Regions from separate parts of the Homo sapiens genome. Here region 1 is linked to region 2. A link means that fine-mapping ties the variant in region 2 to the expression of a gene that starts in the linked region. Tissue or cell type: lung. Region 2 holds a variant in brackets; the other region holds the start of a gene. All regions are shown on one strand. Distances are between the middles of the regions.

What was found. PIP is the estimated chance that this variant, and not a neighbour inherited with it, causes the effect.
Region 1: TSNARE1 starts here. The variant in region 2 is fine-mapped to the expression of TSNARE1 in lung (GTEx, PIP 0.96).

What each region holds. Positions count from the first base shown.
Region 1 is chr8:142,398,268-142,406,355 of GRCh38, reverse strand. It overlaps TSNARE1 (t-SNARE domain containing 1), which reads left to right and starts at 3,174. Exons shown (of 14, transcript NM_145003.5): 1 at 3,174-3,252. RefSeq lists silencers at 2,276-2,325, 2,766-3,335, 3,476-3,615 and an enhancer at 2,269-3,044.
Region 2 is chr8:142,200,410-142,208,510 of GRCh38, reverse strand. LINC00051 (long intergenic non-protein coding RNA 51) reads right to left here. Exons shown (of 3, transcript NR_024378.1): 2 at 1,636-1,826; 3 at 1-261. Among named protein-coding and RNA genes, the nearest start is that of LINC00051, 6.1 kb to the right of the region's middle. RefSeq lists enhancers at 4,550-5,269, 5,990-6,710. The variant C/T (reference allele first, on the strand shown) is at 4,600.

The sequences.
Region 1 (8,088 bases), 200 kb before region 2:
CCCACTCCCGTGAGCTTAGGAGCCCAAATCAGCTACAATGGAAGTGGCACTGGCTTCAGTTACAGAAAACCTGACGAAATCCAATGAGGCAGACCCATAAAGGGAGCAGGGGCTTGTTCTCCCCATGGTGATGAGTCTGACGGTGCCATTGGGGCACCAAGGCAGCTGCTCACATCCTCAGCTTGGGACCCTGCCCCTTGCTGGCCACATGGCTGCTGTCCTCGGGATGCCGTGCCCACACTTCAGGCTGGAGCCAGGAGAAAGGAAGACTGTCAGTGAGGTGGGTGGCCACAGCTGCCCCTTCCAAAGGACCAGGAGGCTCGATTGTGCCTCCTGCAGTCATCCCCTGGGCAAACAGTGTCACAGCTGGCCCAGCTGCTGGTGAGGCTGGCTACATTGATGCCTTGAACAAAACTGGGGTTCTGTTGCTAAGGGACAAAGGAGGCCTGGGTAATAGTGAGGGCGGCTCGGCGGGGTTGGTGGGTGCAGGAATCAAGGACTGAGTGCCCGTGGGCTTTGCTGGAGCAGAAGCTGTGCTGGGAGCAGAGCAGGAGGTGCACAGGCCTTCTCCTGTCCAGGCAGGGGCTGCAGGGGAGCAAGGGATGGTCTCCTGAGCAGGTGACATTGAAGCCAGGCAGCAGAGGGTAGAGAGGAAGGGTGGGAGGGTGGGGAAACTCACGACAAAGCCATAGGTTGACACTGACCTGGAAATTCAGCTTAAACCCTGAGAAGTCCATGCTACTATTCAGAGAGGGAGCATTTCTGAGGTTGGCTTTAGTGGGTGCTGCCTCAACGTTCCTTCCGAAGGCCTTGGAACCACCCCCTAACCTTGTTGCCCACATTCCCTCTGGGACCTGGAATGGTAGATCCAATTTGGGGGGTGCCAGCTGAGGACCAGGCAACCCCCACCCCCTTAGGTAACAGAACTCAGCGTCCTGGGGCCAATCCCACTTATTCACCCTGTTGGTCTCACTGGTTGGCCAAGGGGTGGGACCAGAGTTCTTCCCAGGGAGTCCTGCTTCTCTGGAGGAAGGAGGGAGCCCAGAGCTGCCCGAGGTCATGTGATGACCTCTTCCAGGGAGGGGCAGAGATGAGGGAAGGGAGGGGAGCCCCGGCCCTAGGCCCAGGCAGCTATTGGCTATTTCCCTCATCCCTTCCTGAGGACCCCTTAGCATCCTCCTCCCCCTCCCCATCGGCTCAGCCTGAGGGAGTGGGCTCCTGGCTCTTCCACGGAGAGGTTTACCTTCCCTGACTTGCTGTGGGGCACTCAGGCGGGCTCATCCCAGATTTCGGAGGAGCCAACAGGTACGGAGCCCCTCCTCTGGTGGTTCCTACCCACGCTAGACCATTCCCCCTGCAGTGTCCAGGCACAGAAACAGCCCCATATACGCCTTGTATGGTCAAGAAAGCGGCTCCTGGAGGTGGTCTGCCCTGGGAGGAAAGGGCTTCACTTTCCCCTCCTTTGCACACCTGAACACGGAGCTGTCAGAGGAGGCTGAGTGAGGTGGCGGCCAGACAGACAGCGCCAGCCACGGAAGGGGAGGTGGGCACCGTGCCAGGCACCCGGCATCCTCAGTCCAGACTGACAGCTCTCAGACAGGCATTGGTCCTGGCGAACCTTCCCCTTCAAGTGGAAGCTGGGGGGTCAGCAGTCATGGGCATCCTCCCTGGTTAGGAGCCGGCTTCCCTGCACTCTAGCTGTCCTAGCCGAAGAGTGAAGCCCTGTCCAAATCATGGCGAGGCTGCAAGACAGGCACACACTACTGCCTCCTGGGAGCCCAGGGGAGACTGAAATACACCAAGGCAAGGAGCGTGGGTGGGCCCAGGACAGGCCGGCCTGAGCACCAGCCCAGGAATGCTGGTGGGCATGTGCCCCTCTTCCCTCCCACCCATGTGTGCACACATTTGTGCCATATACTACCGTTCCCATGTTTGCGCCTGGGCACACACTTGTGCCAGCATACACACACTTGTGCACTTGCACCTGGTGTCCAGGAACACTCCCTCAGCTCACAGACGTGCGCTGTGTGCACACAGTACCACGCAGTGTCCACGAGCACACTTTTGTGTTCGTGTTCACAGAACCCGTGTGCGCACACATGCACAGTCCTGGGCTGCAGAGAACCCCAGCCAGCGGGGCGGTGGGGGAAGGGGAGGGCACGCCTCCTTCCCAGGAGCTCAGCAAGGCTGTCCGCGGGAGCCCAGGGCTGCCCGCAGGGCTTTGGCGTAGGCCTCGCAAGCACAGCAAGCATCACAGAGTGAGGGCGGCGGGAGAACCTCCGCTTGCCGGAGAAGGTGCAGCGGACTCATCACTCTTGCTCTCCTGCCTTGGGTGTGACTCTTGGTTCACCTCTGGGGAAACAGGCTGAAAGGTGACCCTGGCGGCCCAAGGACACACACCCATTGTCCGCAGGTTCCTCCCAGGTGTCTTCTCCAGCAGGTCACCGGGAGAGCGAGGGGCTGGAGTCTTTCGGGAGCTCAGTGCCCGCAGGCAGAGCAGGGAAAGGGAGGCGCCCCAGGCCCCTGCGGAAGGAGGTCCCAGGAGGGTCTCCGCAAGGGGCTCCCTACTCTGCACTTCAGCTCCTCCAGGGAGGGGCTGCGACCTCGGGCAAAGGTCCCTCAGATGTCTTGAGACTCAGTTTCCTCGTTGGTGACACTGGGAGTCCGGAGTCCCCGCGGGGCCTGCCAGCCCCCGGCCGAGCACGGCCCCACGCGGAGCCCGTGCAGCCTGACTTGGGGCCCAACGCCCGTCCCCGCAGCGCGAGACGCGCAGGTGCCCGGCCCTGCCCTGGCCGAGACCCGCCGCCTGCGCAGCCCCGCAGAAGCTCCAGCTTTGGCCCGTGTGAGGTCCGGGCTCGGCCTGGGCTGGGCGGAGCCCGCTCCCGAAGCGCCTCAGCGCCGGGCCGCCGCCCTCCACGTGACCTCCACCTTCGCCGTCATCCCCATATGCAAAACGGGGAAACGGGGAAACGGAGGCCCACCACCAGGCAAGTGAGGACAGCCGACTCGCGCGCGCACCCGCAGAGGCCTCTTGGCCCAGCCGACCGCCGTCCGCGCCGCTTCCGGCTCCGCGCCGGGGCCTCTGGGGCGGGTAGTCCCCGCGCGCGTCCGGGACCGGCGGCCATTGGCTGGTGCGGGAGGGGGCGCGCACGCCGGCGGCGGGAGGGGCCGTCACGTGATGTTTGGGTGCCCGCCCCGCCCGCCTCGCCCGCCGTGAGCGCCCGGAGCGGTCCGCGAGCCACCGAGGCCCAGGTGAGGCGGCGGCGGTGGGGCTGGGGCCTGGCCGGGGCCGGGCGTGGGGCGGCGAGGGCGAGGCGGCCGGGGACCAGCGCGGGGCCCGGAGCCCGGCGGGGGCCGCGGCGTGGCGTGGTATGGGGCTTGCGGGAGGCCGGGCGGGGGGCGGGGCCGCGCCGGTGGGGAGGGGAGGGGGCGGGACCGTGCCGGGGGTGGACCCCAGGGGCGCCAGGGACCCTGAGCCGCAGCCCCGCGAGAGCGCCGCATTTCGGGGACCGGCCCGCGGGCACATGAGCCCCTCGGCGGGTCCTCGCGCGCTGTTCAGACCCCAGGTCGGTGGGCTCTGGGCCGGGCAGCCGGTGCCTGCGCCTGGAGGTCAGTGCCGTCCCGGGGAGCGCCCCAGCGCCTACTTGCTGGGTGCAAGGGTTGGTGCCCTGCAGCTCAACGAGCGGAGCCCGCCTTCGAGCCTGAGCTGGGGACCCCGTTCCTGTGTGCTTGCCTCTCCATGCCTTTCTGTCCCTTCTCCAAGTTGTAAGAAGGTGCTTCCTGGGTACTGGGGCCTGCGACATCCCCACCAGGGACTTTCAGGTGATGTTGATCTGTGCTGCCCCCGCAGAAACTCTCCAGGGACCTCGTGTTTGTTGCCTCATGGCGCACTCCTCCTGCTCTGGAAGCTCTGCCATGTCCAGTGTGGTAGCCCCTAGGCATGTGTGGCTGTTTACATTGTCCTTAACGTGAAGGATTCAGGTCCTCCGTGCCAGTGGTCACATGTCCGACACTCAGTAGCCACACGTGTCTGGTGGCGGCTGTGTGGGGCAGCGCGGGTAGGGAACACTGCTTATCACAGGAAGTTCTGTGAGCGGTGTGGTGCGGCTCAAAATGGGCCTCGCGCGTGCTGCTCCGCCGGTGCTTCTCCGCCCCTCATCCTGCCAGGTGCCTTTCCAGCCACACCTGGCGCCCTTTCTTTCCTCTGCTGCACACTTGCCTCTTCTTTTAGTTCCTGGCTCGCTCCTGGCTTGGGGGCAGCTCCGCTTCCGGTATGTCTGAGCTCACCTTTCTGACCGCTCTCCCTACAGTATTTCTTGTTTGTCATTGTCACTCATCTGCTTGTTTTCTGTTTTATCTTTAGTGCCTGTGAGACAGGGGTGGGGATTGTTGCTTAGGATACTCCCAGTGTGGACACAGTATTGAGTTGAAAGAAAGCTGAAGTTTGTTAGTACTGGAGTGCTTCCCCCGACTGAACCGCTGCTTTCATACCGTTCGACCCCATACATCACAGGACCGCAGCAGAAATCTGGTAGAACAAATGTTTGGACACAGCAGCACAGGCCGTGAATGCAGGTGGCTGTGGGAGGCTGGCAAATCCAAGACGACTTCCTGGAGGAGGTTGAGTTTTGGCTGGGTCACCTCTGTTTCTCTCCTCCTCTGCTGGCCTGGCCCCATGAACATCTGGCAGCCTCTGGCTGCTCTGACTCTATCCAGGAACCTTCCCTGGACACTTCCCCTGAGTCTGGCCTTCTGTAGATGCTGGGTCAAGAGCCTAGACCTAGGCACTCAGTCTAGGGGCTCATGGGCAGCCAGGTGTCCCTAAGTCTCTTCCACAGCTCCTCATGGCCTGCAGAGCGAGGTCCTGGGTTTGGCTCCTGCCAGCAGCTCCTGCCACATCTTCAGTCCCTGCTTTATGTCCCTGACAGTGCAGTCATTTTTCCTGCATAGTCTGTGGCTTTTCTCACTGGTGTGCCTGTCGATGCAGAGCCTTCTGCTTGGAATGCCCTGGCACTCCCGTGTTTGTCTCTCCTGTGTGCCTGGGAGCCTCTGTGGCATAGACCTCTGCTGTGTCACCCTTGTGTCCTGAGCACCCCACCCAGCACCGAGAGTAGGATAAGCACCTAGCAGGTTTTGATGAATAAATACACTGGACACGTAAGACTTTGAGGAGAATGTGGTGAGAAGTACAGCTAGGTCACGATGCTGGAGCTTGAGATGGAATCAGGGAGTCACCTTCCAGGTGGGCGGAGTTGGGGAGTCACCTTCCAGGTGGGGAGGAAAGACAAACATGCCTCGACCATGGCTGTACCAAGCCATTCGCGACACGGCGTGGGTGCATCCTTCCACGGTCCTGAAAAGGGGTGGTGAGTGTCTGCAGGTGGTGACACTAATGATACTGGTCACAGCACCTCCTGGTGCCAGGTGACCAGGGAACTGTGTTCATTACTCAGTTTACTCTCACAGTCACCCTGGGAGGAGGGTCTGTTGTCCCCATTTCCCAGATGGAGAGACTGAGACACAGAATGGTGATCTTGCCGTGAGTCCCTCAACTGTCGGGTTCTAGGACGTCATTTGTTCAGCCCAGACAGACACATTTCTTCCGAGGTTGTTGGGCGTTTTATCCCTCTGAGTGGTGTTTGGCCATAAGAACAGTTGGCTAGGGGTTAGGCTGTCTTCTTCTTATTTTTATTTTTTGACACGGAGTCCTGCCTCAGCCTCCCAAGTAGCTGGGACTACAGGTGCCTGCCACCACACCTGGCTAATTTTTTGTATTTTTAGTAGAGACGGGGTTTCATCATGTTGGCCAGGATGGTCTTGATTTCTTGACCTTGTGATCCACCCACCTCGGCCTCCCAAAGTGCTGGGATTACAGGCATGAGCCACCGTGCCCGGCCCTTTTAATTTTTTTTGAGAAGCTTCCCTCTTGTTGCCCAGGCTGGAGGGCGTTGGTGCAATCTTGGTTCACTGCAACCTCTGCCTCCTGGGTTCAAGTGATTTTCCTGCCTCAGCCTTCCGAGTAGCTGGGATTACAGGGGCCTGCCACCACGCCTGGCTAATGTTTTGTATTTTAAATAGAGACGGGGTTTCACCATGTTGGCTAGGCTGGACTCAAACTACTGACCTTTAGGTGATCAACCTGCCTCAGCCTCCCAAAGTGCTGGGATTACAGGCGTGAGCCACTGTGCCCAGCCACTTCTTCTTTTTGGCCAGGCTAGACTCAAGCTCCTGACCTTCAGGTGATCAACCTGCCTGAGCCACACACTGTAATCCCAGGTGTGAGCCACCGTGCCCAGCCACCTCTTTTTTTTTTTTTGAGATAGGCGTGTCTCACTGTGTTGCCCAGTTGCCCAGGCTGGTCTTGAACTCCTGGCCTTAAGCCATCCTCTGGCCTCAGCCTCCCGGAGTGCTGGGATTCCCAGCGTGAGTCATGGCGTCTGGCTCCAGGCTTTTTGTTTTAATGCACACGGGCGTTTCTGTGGCTACTGGGTTTGTTTGGATGGTGTTACTTGCTACAAGTAGACTTTGACCTTGTGGCCCAGTCCAGCTGTCATTCATTGTGTTCTTTAAAGTCTGATTTGTGCATCGTCCATAGTAGCAGACTCCTGAGCAGCCCTCCTCTCAGATTCCTCTGCTTTCTGCTGGGATGCTCAGCCCTGTCTAAACATTTGTGGCATCTGTGTGTGGAGCAGTGGTGACCAAAAGACTAAAGGCAAGAAGGAGTGAGTGAGAGAGTTGGAGAGCTCATGGCCGGCGCTGTCCCTCCAGAGGTGACAGTCAGTTGTTCAGTGTGGATGCTTATGTTTGGCTCTGCTCTCTGTACTGAGGGCATCCTCATCCTCTCCCTCTTGGGCGCATTGAGGCAGCTGGGGAAGATCATCATTCCTCCTGCCCCCACGGTCCCCAGCGCCAGTGGTGGACTCTGTACCTTTCCACACCTCCCTGTCTGCCACCCCACCCGCGGGGAGCTGTGCGTCTCTGAACGTCCATCCAGCTGTGGCCCAGGGCCTGGGGCCCAGTGAATGCCCGATGGGGATTTGCTGAAGACGTGAGGGGTTGTTTCACAGCTGATCTTGAGCCTGTGCTGTTCTTATTCCACTATCCTTCCTGTTAGTGCTGCATGGTGGAGCCATCTGGAAGCTTCCATAGGAAGAGTTTTCTTGGTCTGAGTTCCCTGGCAGAGAAGAAGGGCACTACCAACAATGACAAGCCAGGTGCCTTGAATAGGTTTCTGAAGATGCCTTATGGGCGGGGTGTCCTCACCTACGGAGCCCAGTTGGGCGGTGTCTCCTGCAGGGGCCTTGCTTCGGGGTGTCCTGCTTGCCATCCAGGGCTGTCCTCAGAAGCCAGCTGTGGCTGTCCTGCCTGGCCTTATCCAGGCTATGAGATTCTCTCGTCAACTTGCGGCTTGCTGAGTCTGGGATGGGGGTGAAGGTGGCTCCGTGTGGGCTTCAAATCCGGACTGTGCTGCACAGGGCCCTTCCTTTTTTGTCCTTGGGTAGGTCCTGTTAGGATGTGAACCCACTTGGGGGCCACTGCAGGCAAGCAGGACAGTCTACTGGGTGTTCCTGCCTGGACAGGGTCATTGGCAAGTCCCCAGCCCCTGCCCCTGCCATCAGGGCTGCTGTCTGAGATGTGTAATGTTCTGTGAGACTATGCTAAGGCCATGCCTGGCATGAGTCTTGGGATGGACACAGTGGCAAGCAGGATCAGGCTGTCCTGGCCTTGCTCCGGACACTGCTGTGCACCTTACAGAGCAAGGTCGAGGCAGTGGAGTGAGGAGGTGGAGAGGGCACCTTACAGAGCAAGGTTGAGGCGGTGGAGTGAGGAGGTGGAGAGGGCACCTTACAGAGCAAGGTTGAGGCGGTGGAGTGAGGAGGTGGAGAGGGGAGCTGACTCTGCTGGGGTTGTGCTTTGGCAGGGCTGGGGATGTGCTTTGGGAGGGTTTGGGGGCATATTTTGGGGCTGGAGGTGTGTTTTGGGTAGGGCCGGGGGCATGTTTTGGGCAGGGCTAGGGGTGTGTTTTGGGCAGGGCTGGGGGTGTGTTTTGGGCAGGGCTGGGGACATGTTTTGGGCAGGGCTAGGGGT
Region 2 (8,101 bases):
TGTGGTGTCTTCCACTGGACATCATGGTAACACAGCTGTATCCAGGAGATCCTCTGGGTTGTGGGCACTCTCTTCATGTGGTTCTTCAGGCCTCCTATCCTTGATAATCAGGGTTGATTCCCCAGCCACTGCCTTCATGCTGCTTTGCTTGTTAACTTGGTGGCACCAGACAGGTGGCCAACTCAGCCCCCAGGGCAGCAGAGCCATTCCTGTGACCCCTGGTGGAAACATTCCTGCACTGGGCATTATCTTGGGCAGTCCCTAGAAGGGGAATGTGAACTGGTGGAGAATGTAACCATGAGAGACACCACCCCATAGGTTCTGCCTGGGGGAGAAGGAGCTCCAGATATAAGTCCCTCGTTCTCAGCACACACCCCATCCTGTAGGACAGCACCCCCTCCGCATGGGGCATTGTTTCTAACTGGGGTCTTCAGGCACCCTCTTCATTGCACAGGAGGCCACCTGCTTCAGGGTGATGGAGGAAGCCAGGGAATTCTGGAGGCCTCAGGTGTGACTCTGCTTTTTTTTTTTTTTTTTTTTTGCTACAAAATAGTTTCCTTGTTGGAAGATTTAAAAAGGGCTCTGGAATCTCAGGTCCAAAGTTCTTGCAGAGGGGGAGAAATGGCTACCTGCTGTCAATACCTTAGTCTTTTAAGTCTGTTTAAGCATCTCTCCATCCCCCATCCATCCTCCCATTCCCCATCCATCCATGCATCCATTTATCCCTCTAACCCCCATCCATCCATCCACCTATCTATCCATTCCTCCCCATCCATCCATTTATCCATCTATCCTTCCATCCCCCATCTATTCATCCATTCCCCATCCATCTACCCATCCATCTACCCATACCCCCATCCATCCACCCACCCATCTATCCCTCTAACCTCCATCCATCCATCCATCCACCTGTCCATCCATTCTTCCCCATCATCAATTTATCCATCTATCCTTCCATCCATTCATCCATTCCCCATCAATCCACCCACCCACCCATCTATCCCTCTAACCCCCATCCATCCACCTATCCATCCATTCAGCCATCTATTCTTCCATCCCCTATCTATTCACCCATTCCCCATCCATCCACCCACCCACCCACCCATCCACCCACCCATCTATCCCTCCAATGCCTATCCATCCACGTATCCATCCATTCCTCCCCATCTAGCCATTTATCCATCTATCCCTCCATCTCCCATTTATCCATCCATTCCCCATCCATCCACTCACCCACCCACCTACCTGTCCATCTATCTCTCCAAGCCCCATCTATCCATCCACTCATCCATCCCCATCCATCCCCCATCTATGCATCCATCTATCCATCCCCTACCCACCCATCCATCCATTCACCCATCCATTCCCCAGACATTTGCCCATCTTTCCCCCATTCACCCATCCATCTATTCATCCAATTCCCCCATTCATCTACCATCCACCCATCCATTCCCTATCCAGCTCCCATCCATCCACCCACCCATCTATCCACCCATCCACCAACCCACTCATCCATCCATCCATCCCCTATCTATGCATTCATTCATTCATTTCGCCACCTGTCCCCCACATATCCACCCATTCATTCATTTGCTCTCTGGACAGCTGCCTTCTAAGCACCCCCACCCCACCTACCTGGGCTCAACATAGGAAGTAAAGCAGGACTCCTGTGCCCCAGAAGCTCCCAGTGTGGTGGGAGTGCATCCATGTAGACAGAGAAGCCACATTCACCATGGGCGGCACAGAGGAGGACACAGGAACAAAGGTGTCACAGGTCAGGTAACATTGCTGGGGTCTAGGTAGCTTCCAGATGGGGTGACCTTGACCTGCAGGCAGGGAGGAGCTGGTGACCTCCCTCCCATCTAGGGTCACCTGCACAGTCCTGTAGCAGCCAGACACCTAGAACCAATTTTTGGCCTGACGTTTTCAGTTCTCCCTTTAACCAAATCATTGCTCCTTTTCCCGGCGAGTTTCCAATTTAGATACCCAAATTGTTTACTTGCTGAAATCAATCGACAAGGGACCAGCTTGTATTTGTGATTCAATTGACTATGATACACTGTATTACAATTACACCTCGAATGGATTTCTTTTTAATTTATTTTTCTCTTAACGGTCTCCTCCGCGGTAATTCCAAGACTAATTGTCCTCCTGATCATCCTCATCAGCTGGAGGAAGGATAATGAATTGCTGCAGTTCATAGAGGATGCCGGCCAGGAGCTGCCGGGTCCCCAGCCCTCCCAGCACCCCTTCCCTGGGTCCTCCCTTTCAGGCCGGCCCACGTGCTGTGAGCTGAAGTCCTCCCAGGCGAGGCTTCACTGTCAACGGTTTCATCTGTTCGGCTCAAGATGGGGCGAGTCCCAGAGGAAGACGGCAGACCCTGCCCCTGCCCCTGCCCCTGCCCCTTCCGCTGTCTCGTGGCTGCTCTGCGAGTTCCCATCTGGCAGGGAGCAGCCTGGAGGCCCGTCGAGTTCTGAGGGTCTGTGATCTGCTGCGTATTCCTGAATGAACCTCTTCTCCCTGGGCCTTGGTTTCCCCATCTGTGAGATGGGCCCCCCGGTCTCTAGAGCCCCTTTGGCTGAGACCTTCTGTGAGTCTGTTTAGGGCTCGGGGAAAGGAGTGCTGGGCAGTGCGTCCTGCATGACTCTGGCTCAGAGCCTGCCTCTGCTGTCACCTGTCCTTCCCCCTTCCCCTCACATCCCACCGTCCACTCTGGGGTCTGTGTGCCCGTGTGCCTGGTGCCAGCTTGGCACCAGGTGTTGGACTGGCTTGGCTGTGCAGATGGGCATCATTGCCAACCCCACTTTCCAGATGGGAATATGGGAGGCCCTCAGGTACCAGGGGCCTTCAGCCCAAGAGCCGGGCTTCACCCCAGAGCCATGTGGCCATGGAGGCGCTGCTCCAGCTGTGCCCCACTGAGGGCGCTTGCCTGTGCTCCCTTGGGAGAGGCTTCCCTGAGCCCTGCATCCACCCTGGGGCTTGCTTCGGTGAACAAGCCACACCCTGCCCTGGCATGTCCTGTAGCCGGGAGAGGGGAGGCGAGGTCTCGCCAGGGCTCAGGTGGGGCCCCCAACACCACCAAGTGGAGACCCCTGCAGGAGAGGCCACCAGAGGCAGAGATGCCACAACCCCCTGAGAAGTGCTTCCCGGTGTGTAAGTGCCTGTGTGTGTTTGTGTGTGTCTTGCTTCGGTGTGAGCATGTGTGTGTGTATATGTATGTGAGCATGTGTGTGTGCATATGTATGTGAGCATGTGTGAGCATGTGTGTGCATGTGTGTGCATATGTGTGTGAGCATGTGTATGTGTGCATGCACGTGTTCCTTGCGCATGTGCATATATCTGCATTGTGGTGTCTGTGTGTACCTGTGTGTCCATGTGTGTCTCTGTGCACATATGTGCCTGTGTGTGTGTCCATGTGTCTCCGTGTGTGTCTGTGTATATGCGTGTTTGTGTGTGTGCATGTGTGTTCACGTGTGTGTGTCCATGTGTCTCCATATGTCTGTGTATATGCGTGTTTGTGTGTGTGTGCATATGTCTGTGCACGTGTGTGTGTCCATGTGTGTCTCTGTGTGTGCATATGTGTGCATGTGTTGGCACGAGGGAGCCACTCACAGAGCCTGAAGCAATGGGGTCCTGGCCCCTGTCCACCTGATGCCTTCCTGACCGGGCCTCAGTTTCTCATTTGTGATGTGGGGTGAGGGTGAGAGGCATCTGTGTGGCCCTTTAGAGGTGACCAGATGCCTTTGTCCGTCCTTTGTCCTCTGACCTTCACACAAGTGAGGGGTGTGGGGGGTGTATTTAATGACCCCCCTCAGCACCTGGCAGCCTCCATGGTGGACCCAGCATCTGGGCCTCTGCCCCTGCCCCCCACCCCCGGCGCTCCCTCCACGCTCTGACACATGGGAGACGCACAGCTCCCCAGGCTTCCACATGGATTGATTTGGCGGCCCCAGGAATAGATGTGTCCATACATTAGGTGCATGTGGAAACATGGCCCCAATAACCCCAGCCCGCATGCCTCTGTCTGAAGCATTCTCGCACCATGGGAATTATTTTGCTATTTTGGGGTATAGATCCTTGCAGGAGCTGAGATGCCATTTCCATCGTGGGTGCCACGATCATGAAAAGGAGAATCAATGACAGGGTGCGAGGCGGGATGAGGGAGGGGAGCCCCAGCTGTGTCTGGTGCCGGAGTCAGCCCCCAGGCTTCCAGAAAGGTCCAGGTGCCGAGGGCACCCAGCTGGAGTCAGCCCCCAGGCTTCTAGAAGGTCCAGGTGCCAAGGGCACCCAGCTGAAGTCAGCCCTGGGCTTCCAGAAAGGTTTGGCTGCCAAGGGCACCCAGCCTGCACCTCCTGGCCTCTCTGAATCCGCCAGAGGTGAGGTCAGCGAGGATGTCCAGCCACAGGAACCAGGAGCTCAGATGACCTTGTGGACTGGAGGGGACAGGAGACCTCCCAAGGCCACGTGGCAGCTGGACACGGGCAGGGTCTTGCCCAATCACTTGAGTTTCTGCCCCACAAATACACCAACCAGAGGGAGACAGCGCCCCCTGCACATGCAGACCCTGTAGACCCCGAAAGCTCCTGTTTGTGGAGTCCC[C/T]GCCCCTGGCCCCGCCCCTGCTGACCACCCTGGCCCCGCCCCTGCTGACCACCCTGGAGCAGCCCCTTGGGCTTCATCTCAGATGCACGAGAGGTCGTGGGTCTGGGTTCTGACTCTGGTTTCAAATCAAGCTTGGTGGTTCAAACTTAGGAAGGTCGTTTCCTTGACTTCAGACTCCTCATTTATACAATGAGCCAATAATACCTTCCCCCGAAGGTTCTGAGTAGCTGGCATTTTGATATCTTAGGGAGGGGCCTGGTAAATGCAGCACTTTTGGCTCTGTGGGTCTGTACTGTCTGCAATGGGCTGGGCCGCTCAGAGGCAGTGAGTGTGCAGGCAGAGAGTGGGGGCTGGGCCGCTCAGAGGCAGTGAGTGTGCAGGCAGAGAGTGGGGGCTGGGCCGCTCAGAGGCAGTGAGTGTGCAGGCAGAGAGGGGGCCCACTGCTCAGGTGTGGGAGGCTGGGTGAAAAGGCTCTGAGGTCTCTTCAAATAGAGTTGAGACAGAATGGCAAGGATGCCCAGGATCCGAATCACCCAGCCACGCCTAGAACTGCAGACGTCCTTCCGGAGCTGCACCCCGGTGCCGCAGCCAGGAGGCACGTTCTCCCTGCCCCTACCCCTGTCCCAGGGGAGGGGGCTGAGGTTCCCAGCAGCACCTGCCATGCACTGAGATGCCAGGGAGCCTGAATTCAATTATGCACCAGGTGTTATGTATGTGGCATCCCACGGATGCATTGATTTCTCAGGTTGACAGATCGGTTATGAATCAGGTAATAGACCAGCTTGTAACTGAAATATATTGGATTGTGCAGGCGGCCTGGCTGAGTATCGGCTTGAGGGAAATAGGGCAGATTTACGAGCCTGGGAGGGTGGCTGGGGCATCAGCCGTTCACCCTGCACAGTCACAGCTGCTAGCCTCACACCTGTGCCCAGGGAGCCGGGAAATAGAGAGTTGATCTGGGAGAGGAGGAGGGAACAGCACGGAGAAGGGTCCACAGGCGGGAGGGCCCAGGAAGGGGGCACAGAGCAGGGCAGGGAGGCTGTGGGCCCTTGAGAGACCCTGGGGGCAGCATGGGAGGATCACGGGTCTGGAGTCCAGGGCAGTGTGGCGCTCCTAGGACCTGATCATGGTTGTGTTCCCTTTCATGAGGGCTTCATGCCCCGGGAACTTGTCAGTGATTGCCTGGGTCCCCTCCGATGACACTCACAGCCCAGGAGTCAGATGCCGTCATCATCCCCTTGCAGCTAGGCAGGCCAAGCTCTGAGATGGCAAGAAACCTCTCTGTGCCATGCAGCCGAGGGGAGGCCAAGATTGCAAAGCCAGACAGGCTGACTTTGTGCCTTTTGCTTCCCCGTTCAGCTCTTCTGAACCATGACAAGCAGGAGTGAGGCCCCATGGAGGGGGCCCTGCCCTGCCACTCAGGGAGTGCACCCCAGGCCCCCGGTGCTCAGCCTGTTCGACCTCAGCCTCTACACACAGCAGACCAGGACAGGGGCCCCGCTCAGAGGTGGGAGCAGTGCTCTGATCTGCCTGGCAGAGGGCGGAGACGGCGGCTGGAGGGCTCTCAGGGTCAGAGCTGGAGGCCTGGGCATGGGAGGGCAGGGAGAGCCGGGCTGGGGACTCCCGTCATCCACAGTACTTGGCTGATATCACTGTTCAGGTGTTGCCTCCCTGCGGGGAGTCAAATGCCCTGAGGACAGGGGGCCTTTCTTTCCATATGCAGAGCCCAGCCAGGGCCCGGCCTGTGAGAAGCTCAGAGAGAGGGCAGCGTGAGCGGATGTGGTGGACATCTGGGAGCACCCACAGTCCTGGAGCTTGGACCCGCCTGAGATGAGACACCAGGGCTCAGGACTCAGCCTCCAGTCACAGTCCGCCTTCAGTATGTGACCTTGGTCAGAGCTCAGACTGTGACCAGAGCAGGGCTCAGTTTGGGGCCAGAATCATGGCTTAGACTTTGCCTAGGATGAGGCTTGGATTATGACCTGGGTTAGGACTCAGTGTATGGCTATGATCGGGGCTCCGTGTGCGGCCCAGATCAGGGCTCGGGGTGCGGCCCTTAGAGGAAAGGAGATGCCTAGGCCGCTGGAGAACAGAGCTGTCATCCCCTGGGTCCCTTCGCTCCACGCTTTCACCAAGGACCCGATCAAGACCATTAACGGATGCACAGAAGCTTCTGGATCTGCTCAGGCCCCTCTGTGGTGGGAACCCCCCGGCCCCCCTCTCCCTGCTGTGGGTCTCTGTCACTGAGTGGCCCCGTGAGCATCTCTAATGAGCTCCTTCCAGGGGGAGGCTGGGGGGGTGGAGGGGGCCCAATTTATCTCTATTTATGCCTCTCCTTATAGCTCCACCAGCTTCTCAGTAATCTTTATGGGGTTCAATTATTGTATCTTCAATTGATATGAGTGATTTCAATGGTTCTTGATGTTCCGTGTTAAATCTCCAGTGGAAAATATCTTCAACGTTCAGCATAAAACACCTAGTCATTGCCGGCAATGCAGCCACGGAGGCCTCGCCGGGAGATGTGGGCCCGGTTCTGGGTGGCAGGTGAGGTGTCCTCACCCCTGGGCCCACAAATCAGTGTGGGGTGACACCCCCTCCTCCACCCTGGCAGCTAGAGCACCTCATGGTGAGAACTTAGCTTTTATGGGAAAATAGAGCTGGGGCTTGAGGCTGGGAGCGACCCGACATACCGGTTTCCTGTTTCTGTTGTAATAACTAACCACCAACCCGTGACTTCAACCAACAGAAGTTCGTTTCTCACAGCTCCAGAGTCAGAAATCCAGAAGGAGAGTTAGGGGCTCCATCTAGGCGTCGGCAGAGCAGGCTCCTCCCAGAGGCCCCATGGGAGGCTCCCTCCTGGCCTCTGCAGGCTTCTGGAGACCTTCTGCTTTCCTCGAAGCCTCTGTCTCGCAGCCCTTCCCCTCCTCACACCTGTCTCCTGCCTCCCTCTCTTTTTCTTTTTTGAGATTGGGTCTCGCTTTGTCACCCGCGCTTGAATGCAGGGCTGGAGTGCAGTGGTGCCATCATGCTTCACTGCAGCCCCCATCTCCTGGGCTCAGGTGATCCTCCTGCTTCAGCCTCCCGGGTAGCTGAGACTACAGGGGCACGCCACTATGCCCGGCTAATTTTTAATTTTTTTCTGTAGAGACGAGGTCTTGCTATTTTGCCCAGGCTGGCCTTGGCCTCAAGTGACCCTCTCACCTCGGTCTCCCAAAGTGCTGGGATTATAGGCATAAGCCTGGCCACCTGCCTTCCTCTTAAAAGGACCCTTGAAGTGACATTTAGGACCCACCTGGGTCCCCCAGGATTGTCACACATCTCCTGGTCCTTCACATCCGCACATCCCTTTTGCCACGTAGGGGGCATATCCGCAGGGTAAGGTCCATGCATGGTGTGTTTCCATGGTAACATGGTAAGAGGGAAACACGCAAGGACAGGTCCTCACCACGCCTGTGAAAGCCCCAAGGCTGCCCTGATAGTTGCAAGGGGTGCGGCTGCCAAC